Linked DNA regions of Homo sapiens. The protein of the gene in region 3 interacts with the protein of the main gene of each other region in a biochemical or structural test. Each region holds a gene or a part of one and is shown on either strand. Other genes may lie near its edges.

Evidence for each region.
Region 1: the proteins of ITCH (region 3) and GJA1 interact in a test that uses a peptide from one of them, tested with the Homo sapiens proteins (one large-scale study listed by BioGRID).
Region 2: the proteins of ITCH (region 3) and UBE2R2 form a complex in vitro, tested with the Homo sapiens proteins (one study listed by BioGRID).

What each region holds. Positions count from the first base shown.
Region 1 is NC_000006.12:121,447,937-121,450,227, reverse strand, and holds the end of GJA1 (gap junction alpha-1 protein), read right to left. Parts: coding exon 2,232-2,291; 3' UTR 501-2,231; downstream 1-500. UniProt on the Homo sapiens protein: Gap junction protein that acts as a regulator of bladder capacity. A gap junction consists of a cluster of closely packed pairs of transmembrane channels, the connexons, through which materials of low MW diffuse from one cell to a neighboring cell.
Region 2 is NC_000009.12:33,897,075-33,900,817, reverse strand, and holds part of UBE2R2 (ubiquitin-conjugating enzyme E2 R2), read right to left. Parts: intron 645-3,743; coding exon 547-644; intron 1-546. UniProt on the Homo sapiens protein: E2 ubiquitin-conjugating enzyme that accepts ubiquitin from an E1 ubiquitin-activating protein, and catalyzes its covalent attachment to other proteins by an E3 ubiquitin-protein ligase complex.
Region 3 is NC_000020.11:34,506,102-34,509,344, reverse strand, and holds part of ITCH (E3 ubiquitin-protein ligase Itchy homolog), read right to left. Parts: intron 1,651-3,243; coding exon 1,551-1,650; 3' UTR 1-1,550. UniProt on the Homo sapiens protein: Acts as an Acts as an E3 ubiquitin-protein ligase which accepts ubiquitin from an E2 ubiquitin-conjugating enzyme in the form of a thioester and then directly transfers the ubiquitin to targeted substrates.

The DNA.
Region 1 (2,291 bases), on a different chromosome or scaffold from region 3:
TTCAACACTTTATCTTCCTTTTGGTTCAATAAATATCCAAAAATGTTTACAATTTATGTTGCACTGAACAGAGCTAATGATAAATATTGTCCCTGAAAACATGACTGTTATTTGCTGAAGTTCTGATAACCAATAGAAATGTGTTTAAATAATCTCAAATAGATGCCGTCAATGAGTTTTAAATATAGGCCAGGTGCGGTGGCTCACCCCTGTAATCCCAACACTTTGGGAGGCTGAGGTGGGCGGATCACGAGGTCAGGAGTTCCAGACCAGCCTGGCCAACATGGTGAAACCCCATCTCTACTAAAAATACAAAAATTAGCCAGGTGCGGTGGCGGTGCCTGTAATCCCAGCTATTCGGGAGGGTGAGGCAGGAGAATTGCTTGAACCCGGGAGGCAAGGGTTGCAGTGAGACGAGATCGCGCCACTGCACTCCAGCCTGGGTGACAGAGCAAGACTCCATCTCGGCAGGGGAAACAAATCACACGGAATATAGAAGCTATGTTTATACTAAATTAAAACTTTATTGAATAAAGAACACTCTCCAGAACACATGATCTGATGGACTAGGTCTACATTACATGCAATGAAGCTGAACATGACCGTAGTTTAACATGGAATGTCAAACAAATTAGTAATTTTCATTGTACAAAACTGTTTATGTAGCTGACATGCATGCAAGAAGAAAAGTGTCATACTCAGCATTTTCACCAATCTTCTGTGATGAGTTTTAAAAAAGGCATTTGGAGAAACTGGTAGATGTCTTCAACATATAGTTCAAATAAATTAGTTGTATGTGTACTACTGAATCCTCTTTCAACCTCTCTTGCATTCCAAATAAAATCTTAGTGCAAACATCAAAGTTGCTGGTCACTCCAAAAGACTGCTAAACTCATAATAGAATACAAGTTCTGAATTACTGTGTATTAAGTAGGAAAACCCAAGAATACCAGTTACTGCAAAATTCATTTAGGCACATTTAATAGTCCACTCTAAGCATTTTTTCTAAGTCTCTCACATTAATGACTAAAGCCTGTTTACAGTACTAAAATTCTATCATTCAAGCATCAATGATTACATTTCAGAAAAAGGAAATTCATTTCAGTAATAGCATTACTGCTATATCCTAAAAAAAGGAGAGAAAATAAAGAATCATAATTAACAAAACCAGTATCCATAATAGGATACACAGGGAAAAACATTTTAGGAGAAAAAAAAAGTGTGCTTTACTTGCCACAGCAGGAATTATATAATGTAAACACCATATTGGCCCACACCACAAAAATCCATGAGAAAGGTTCAAATTTGAACACCATATGTGCATTATTTTCAAATCTGTGTTTGTGAGTTTATACTGTATCTGCTTGTACCAATACATGACAAACAAAACAAACTCTTCGACACACATATAAGTGATTGTTAAATATTAAGCATGGCTTGATTCCCTGACTTTAGCTCAAAAAAAAAATGTTAAGTGACATCCCAACTGTCTTAAAAATGTTTACAGAAACCATTAAATGAATGTGAGTAGTAGCTGAGGAATGATGAAAAAGTGATGGTAATGATATTGTGCAAGTGGATGGAAAAAGAATATACGTATTTGCAAATGCATGGAAAATCTTATTCTGTGGGCCTTGTCTGAATTTTAAACTGATACCAAGAATAAAAAAATATAGTAGCACAAGTCCATTGACACCTGGAGGGTCAGGCCTAGAAAGCTTACCTTCAAAGTGCAAATTTTAACAATGGAATGTTTTAGCAGGGACTTAAGGACAATCCTCTGTCTTTTTCTTGTTGAAAAGACCTAAGATGTTCAGGAAGTATTTATTCCTGGCCAGAATTATTTCAGTTTCTTGGTAAAACAAAAATATTTAGCCACAATTACCACCCGCTCATTCACATACACAGAACCATTCTTAGGGGTGTTTGCGGGGAGAAAAAGCCCTTATCTATGTATCACCTAATGGAACTCTTATTTATAATCTAAGTTCTTTGAATCCACTACTTTAAATACCAACATGCACCTCTCTTATCCCCTCCCTCTCCACCCATCTACCCCATACACCCCCAGTGAACCTAGGTATTCTAATGTCTTTGTGTTTTCTAAGCCTCATGAATAAGGCTGTTGAGTACCACCTCCACCGGATCAAAATTAACACCTGGTGCACTTTCTACAGCACCTTTTTTCTTCTCCACAATTGAGTGGAATCTTGATGCTTTCAAGCCTGTATCTAGATCTCCAGGTCATCAGGCCGAGGTCTGCTGCTGGCACGACTGCTGGCTCTGCTTGA
Region 2 (3,743 bases), on a different chromosome or scaffold from region 3:
GTGGGGAGGACTGCTTGAGGCCAGGAGTTTGAGACCAGCTGGGCAACTTAGTGAGACCCCATCTCTACAAAAAATTTAAATACATATATGTATACACGTACATATATAGATATATATTTATATGTATGAAATATTTTGGAGCAAAACAACGACAGGTAAAAACAAAGGAAATGTGAAAGCGTATGGACTTCAGTTACTTATAATGAATTAACATTGTTTATTAACTGCAACCAATGAATGACACTAATGTTAGGTGGTAATAAAGAACCAGAGTAGAACTAGGATAAGTTAAGAGTAGGGATTCAGGCTTGAAAATCTATTCCTAAGTGAACATAGGGAAATGAGAATCATATACATTATTGTTTAGTAAATACAGCTCTTCAAAATGACGCATACATATTTCTTAAAGCTCTAGCTAAAGACAAAGAAACTGAATATAAGAAAGATGATTTTTTACATGTTAAAAGACAATACATAATTTTATTTTACTAGGAGCAAAGACAATAAGGAGATTAAGAATAACTCCAAAACCAGATTCCTCCTTACCTCACATTCTGAGTAGGATTCCACCTTTCAGAAGGCAGTTCTCCACTCTGTGGGTCATCTACAGGCGGATGAAGAATCGAAATGCATACATCTCCATTCTACAAGACACAAACATTACATTCAGTAAATACTCAAAAAGTGATGTACAAAAAGGGACATCGGTTCTAAAGTTTCCTTTATTCCTAGAAACTGTTTCTTCATCAAAGGAGAAAACAATTCTGCTTTTTATGTTCAACATCAAAGATAAATAATAATTAAGCATTTTAAAAGTATTTATTTTGACCAATCTCCAAGGTATATTTTCTAGTGAGAAGACTTACTATTCCTATAGAACAATCCTGATGAAACAAACGATCCCTATGTTTACTTAGGAACATTAAAATATAATATTTATTTCGACCAATCTCCAAGGTATATTTTCTAGTGAGAAGACTTACTATTCCTATAGTACAATCCTGATAAAAAATTGACTGGGGCTGGGCGCGGTGTCTCACGCCTGTAATCCTAGCACTTGGGAGGCCAAGGCGGGTGGACCACCTGAGGTCAGGAGTTTGAGACCAGCATGGCGAAACCCCATCTCTACCAAAAATACAAAAATTGGCTGGGCGCGGTGGCTCACGCCTGTAATCCCAGCACTTTGGGAGACCAAGGTGGGCAGATCACAAGGTCAGGAGTTCGAGACCAGCCTGAACAACATGGTGAAACCCCGTCTCTACTAAAAATACAAAAATTAGCCGGGCGTGGTAGCACTCCCCTGTAATCCCAGCTACTCAGGAGGCTGGGGCAGGAGAATCGCTTGAACCTGGGAGGTGGGGGTTGCAGGGAGCCAAGATCGCGCCAATGCACTCCATCCTGGGCAACAGAGGGAGACTCCGTCTCAAAAAAACAAAAACAAAAGACAAAAATTAGCCGGGCGTGGTGGCACGCGCCTGTAATCCCAGCTACTCAGGAGGCTGAGGCAGGAGAATCGCTTGAACCCGGGAGGCGGAGGTTGCAGTGAGCCAAGATAGTGCTCCGGCCTGGGCAACACAATGAGACTCCATCTTAAAAAAAAAAAGACAAACATAATAAATCAAGACTCAATTGTCTTAGAAGCAGCCAAATATATATCCCTTTGTTTTCAGATATATCTGTGTACCTAGAGTACATAAAAAGGAAGAAAAAATATCTAACCTTGCTTAATATCTACTCAGATAGATGCTATGTCAATAACCATGACTTATATAAACCAAAAATATGCCTCGCAGCAAATGTTAACATCCTCAAGGTATGGTTAGAATGACTTCCCACTATGGCTATTATATTTTGCTTCATAAACTTAACACAACTTAATCCACAAGTACATTTAGGTTAATTCATACACATATGGATTGCCCACCATGTGCAATACAGAACACAATTCAATAGAAAAGATAAAGTTAGGTAAAATACAGTGACTTATCTCTTGGACTTAGCCTAACATGGAAGGTAAGATTTATTTATTTATTTAACTTCTTTCTGTCTTTAGAGATGGGAGTCTCACTATGTTACCTAGGCTGTAGTGCAGTGATTATGCATAAGACAACCATGGTGCACTGCAGCCACTAACTCCTGGCCTCAAGTGATCCTCACACCTCAGTAGTCCCATAGCTGGGACTCTAGGGTGTGCTACCACACACGACTTAAGATTTATATTTTTAAAAAACTGGAGGTATAACTATATAAAGTGCAAAAATCTTACATATACAACCCAAATTTAGACACATAGAAACTATATGAATATATATGTAACCATTATCAATATAAAATATTTTTAAAATAAAATTAATACAAAATATTATATTCTAACACACTGCCTTATGGTTAGATACCATAAGGCATGTAAAAAGTTACTACAGATAAAAGAAGAGAGAGGCCAGGCATGGTGGCTCACATCTGTAATCCCAGCACTTTGGGAGGCTGAGGCAGGCAGAGCACAAGGTCAAGAGTTTAAGACCAGCCTGGCCAGTATGATGAAACCCCATCTCTACTAAAAATACAAAAATTAACTGGGCGTGGTGGCACCTGTAATCGCAGCTACTCAGGAGGCTGAGGCAGGAGAATCCCTTGAACCCGGGAGGCAGAGGTTACAGTGAGCTGAGATCACGCCACTGCACTCCAGCCTGGGCGGCAGAGCGAGACTCCATCTCAAAACAAAAACAAAAAACAAAAAGAAGAGAGCCGGGCGTGGTGGCTCACGCCTGTAACCTCAGCACTTTGGGAAGCCAAGGCGGGCAGATCACCTGAGGTCAGGAGTTCGAGACCAGCCTGACTAACATGGAGAAAACCCATCTCTACTAAAAATACAAAATTAGCCAGGCGTGGTGGTGCATGCCTGTAATCCTAGCTACTCGAGAGGCTGAGGCAGGAGAATCACTTGAACCTGGGAGGTGGAGGTTGTGGTGAACCGAGATTGTGCCATTGCACTCCAGCTTGGGCAACAAGACCAAAACTCCATCTCAAAAAAAAAAAAAAAAAGAAAAAAGAAAAGAGAAACTTGGTATATTTGGGCAGTGAATGCGTGGGAGGTGGGGTGGAAGATAAAAGGCTTTGTTGTTGAGGAAGCTTTGAGATGAGCTTTCCTTTAATAATAACAATTTAAACAACCTATGGGAAATGTAGAAATGAGTTTTTCTGGCCAGGTGCAGTGGCTCACGCCTGTAATCCCAGCACTTTGGGAGGCCGAGGCAGGCAGATCACTTGAGGTCAGGAGTTCGAGACCAGCCTGACCAATATGATGAAACCCCATCTCTACTAAAAATACAAAAATTAGCCGGGCGTGGTGGCACGCACCTGTAATCCCAGCTACTCGGGAGGCTGAGACAGGAGAATCACTTGAACCCGGGAGGCGGAGGTTGCGGTGAGCCGAGATCACACCATTGTACTCCAGCCTGGGCAACAAAAGCGAAACTCTTGTCTCCAAAAAAAAAAAAGAGTTTTTCTGAATCCCAGCACTTTGGGAGGCCGAGGCCAGCGGATCACGAGGTCAGGAGATTGAGACCATCCTGGCTAACATGGTGAAACCCCGTCTCTACTAAAAATACAAAAAATTAGCCGGGCGTGGTGGCAGACGCCTGTAGTCCCAGCTACTCAGGAGGCTGAGGCAAGAGAATGGCGTGAACCCAGGAGGCGGAGCTTGCAGTGAGCTGAGATCGCGCCACTGCACTCCAGCCTGGGCA
Region 3 (3,243 bases):
AAAGTCCCTGATACATGAGCTATGAGGCTGTCCTCAGGGTTCAGCTATGATAGAGACTCAGCTGGCTTAGGCTTCATCCACTGCCAATGAAGTCAAATTTATAACAGCCACCTTGACAGTCGAAGCTAGGCCAAGTTAAAATAATTAATTCCAGAGAACTTCAAAGTGCATTAATCAGTTAATAATGGAGCAATCTAAACTTAAATAGTCGTGAGAAAAAAAGGAAACCCTGTTAAAAATTTTAGGGGTGAAAATATTGCAGATGAGGGTTATCAATCCAGTTCATGACAATGTAAAGAATGGAAATGACTACTCCAACATATGTCAGAGAAATGATAACTTTGAAGACTTTTAATTCACAGAGAATATATTCCTGTGGTTACTGGATGTTATCTTCCTTTCTTTTTAGCCAGTACCACAGCTCTCCCTCTCAAATGAAAATCTGATGTCAAAAGCTGTTTCACTGACCTCTATTTGGACTAGAAAGCACTCTAGTCTTTCTAGTCTTAAACTCCTTAACAATAATTAAATATAACTGAAGTTGTTGGATTATGATAAAACTATAAAGCATCAATTATATAGCGGAACATATAAAAATCACCAGAGACATCTTTAGATGAATTCAATTAAATTAATTCTAATTCTAGGCTAAGTTTTTTTTCCTTTTATTTATTTATCCCCCACCACGCTGCCCAAAAAAAAGACAGGGTCTCCCTATGTTGCCCAGGCTGGTCTTTAACTCCTGGGCTAAAGGGATCCTCCTGCCTCGGCCTCCCAGAGTGCTAGGATTACAGGTATGAGCCACCATGCCCGGCCCTAGGTTAACTTCTTAAAACAATGAAGGAATCACAGTGTTAACATTGTTTGTAAAGTGTAGTATTTGTCAGGCAACTGAAACAATCAGACTTCCAAATGAAGTCATTTGCAGGCTGTGACCAACTTTTCCCTGAATTCAAATTGACAAAACTACTTTGTAGAGATGCAAGAGTCTTGCCTCACTTCCAGGAATGATGTATGGATTCATGCGCCAGAAAGGAAAAACAATAGTCAAGTCAGACTAAAATGAGAGGGAGAACACAAGCCCGAATTTTGCTCACATCCCCAGAAGCAGGAGTAAGCTTGCACTTTTAACAAATGCCTCTTACCAAGAGGCTTAATAGGAAAATCTTGTATATTGCAGTTACCAAAGGACTTCCCTGCATGTCTGCAGAATGTCTAAAAGAAAAAAACACTACTCCCAAGTGAGACTTTTGACACACATAAAATATTGTTGTTAAAGGAATAAACTAGTGGAATAAGACAAGGCAAATTTCATTGTTGTGTTAAAATCTCATGTTAAGCAAGGTTCTGACTAGTCATTTGCAGACCTGATTTCTGGAAACGCTGAGTAGAAATCACTGGGAGATAAATCTAAATGAGAACATTAATTTACTTACACTCAGATAACTCTCTAAAGAGCCATTGTCCAATTTTACAAGATGTGCAACAGGCAGAGAAGGACAAACATTGCAAATAAGTTCTTGCCCATTCATGGTGCAAGTTCTCAGAAGTTACTCTTGTCCAAATCCTTCTGTTTCTTCTATGGCAAACAACAGCTTTTCCTTCAGTTGCTCATAGCTCTTGTATGGTGGCAGGTCCAGGCGATTAAAACTAAAAGCAAGAATTGTTAGTTTGAGAAAAGGAAATATGCAAAGAATCAAATGAGTAGTGTAGTATACTACTTTATACACTACTATAGAAGCACAAAAATATACTACTGTGCTTCAAAGGATACCATCAAGAAAGTGAAATAACCCAAAAATGGGAAAAAATATTTGTAAATCATATATCTGATAAAGGACTGGTATCCAAAATATATAAAAAACTTAAAACTCAACAATATTTAAAAATGAACAAAGGATAGAGATTTCTCCAAAGACATACAAATGACCAATAAGCACATTAAAAAAATGCTCAACATCCTTTACCATGCAAATAAAAACCACAATGAGATACCACTTCACACCTGTTGGGATGGCTATTATTTAAAACACCAAAACAACAACAACAACAACCAAAAAAAAAAAAAAAAAAAAAAAAAACAGAAGAAAACAAGAGTTGAAAAGGATGTGAGGATGTGGAGAAATTGGAGCCCCTCTGCACTACAGGTAGGAATATAACGCAGTGTAGTCACTATGGAAAACAGTATGGCGAGATTCCCCCAAAAAATTAAAAATAGAATTACTACATGATCAAGGAATTCCACCTCTGGGTATATACCCAAAACAACTGAAAGCAGGGCCATGGACAGATATATCTATATTCTACCACAGTATACCTATGTTTATAGCAGCATAAACAGCCAAAAGGTGGAAATAATCTAAGTGTCCATGGACAGATGAATGTATAAACAAAATGTAGTATATCCAGACTATCAAATATTATTCAGCATTAAAAAGGAGGAAATGCTGACACATGCTACAACATGGATGAAAATTAAAGATATTATTCTAAGTGAAATAAGCCAGCCAGGAAAGGACAAATAAGGTACGATTCTACACTTACGAAGTACTAAAGAATCATAGAAACAGTAGTAGAATGATGTTTGCCAGGACCTGGGGAAAGGGAGTCATGGGGAGTCATTGTTTAAAGCAGCAGTCTCCAGCCTTTTTGGCACCAGGCAATGGTTTTGTGGAAGACAATTTTTCCATGGACAGGAGTGGAGAGGGGGATGGTTTCAGGATGAAACTGTTCCACCTCAGGTTAGATTCTCGTAAGGAATGCACAATCTAGATCCCTCACATGCACAGTTCACAATAGTTATTGCTCCTATGAGAATCTAATGCCTCTGCTGATCTGACAAGTGGTGGAGCTCAGCAGGTAATGCTCATTCACCCTCCACTTACCTCCTGCTGTGCAGCCCAGTTCCTAACAGGCTGGGGACCAGGAGTTGGGGACCCCTGCTTTAATGGGTACCATTTCAATTTTACAAGATGAAAAATGTTTTAGGTCTGGCATGATGGCCTGTAATTCCAGCACTTTGGGAGGTCAAAGCAGGAGTATTGCTTGAGCTCAAGAGGTCGAGACCAGCCTGAGCAACAAAGTAAGACTCTGTCTCTACAAAAAGTTTAGAAATTGGCCAGGTGTGGTAGCACATGCCTGTCGTCCCAGCTACTTGGGAGGCTAAGGTAGGAGGACAGTTTGAGCCCGGGAGGTGGAGGGTGCATGAGTGGAGATTGAGCTACAGCACTCCAGCCTGGGTGA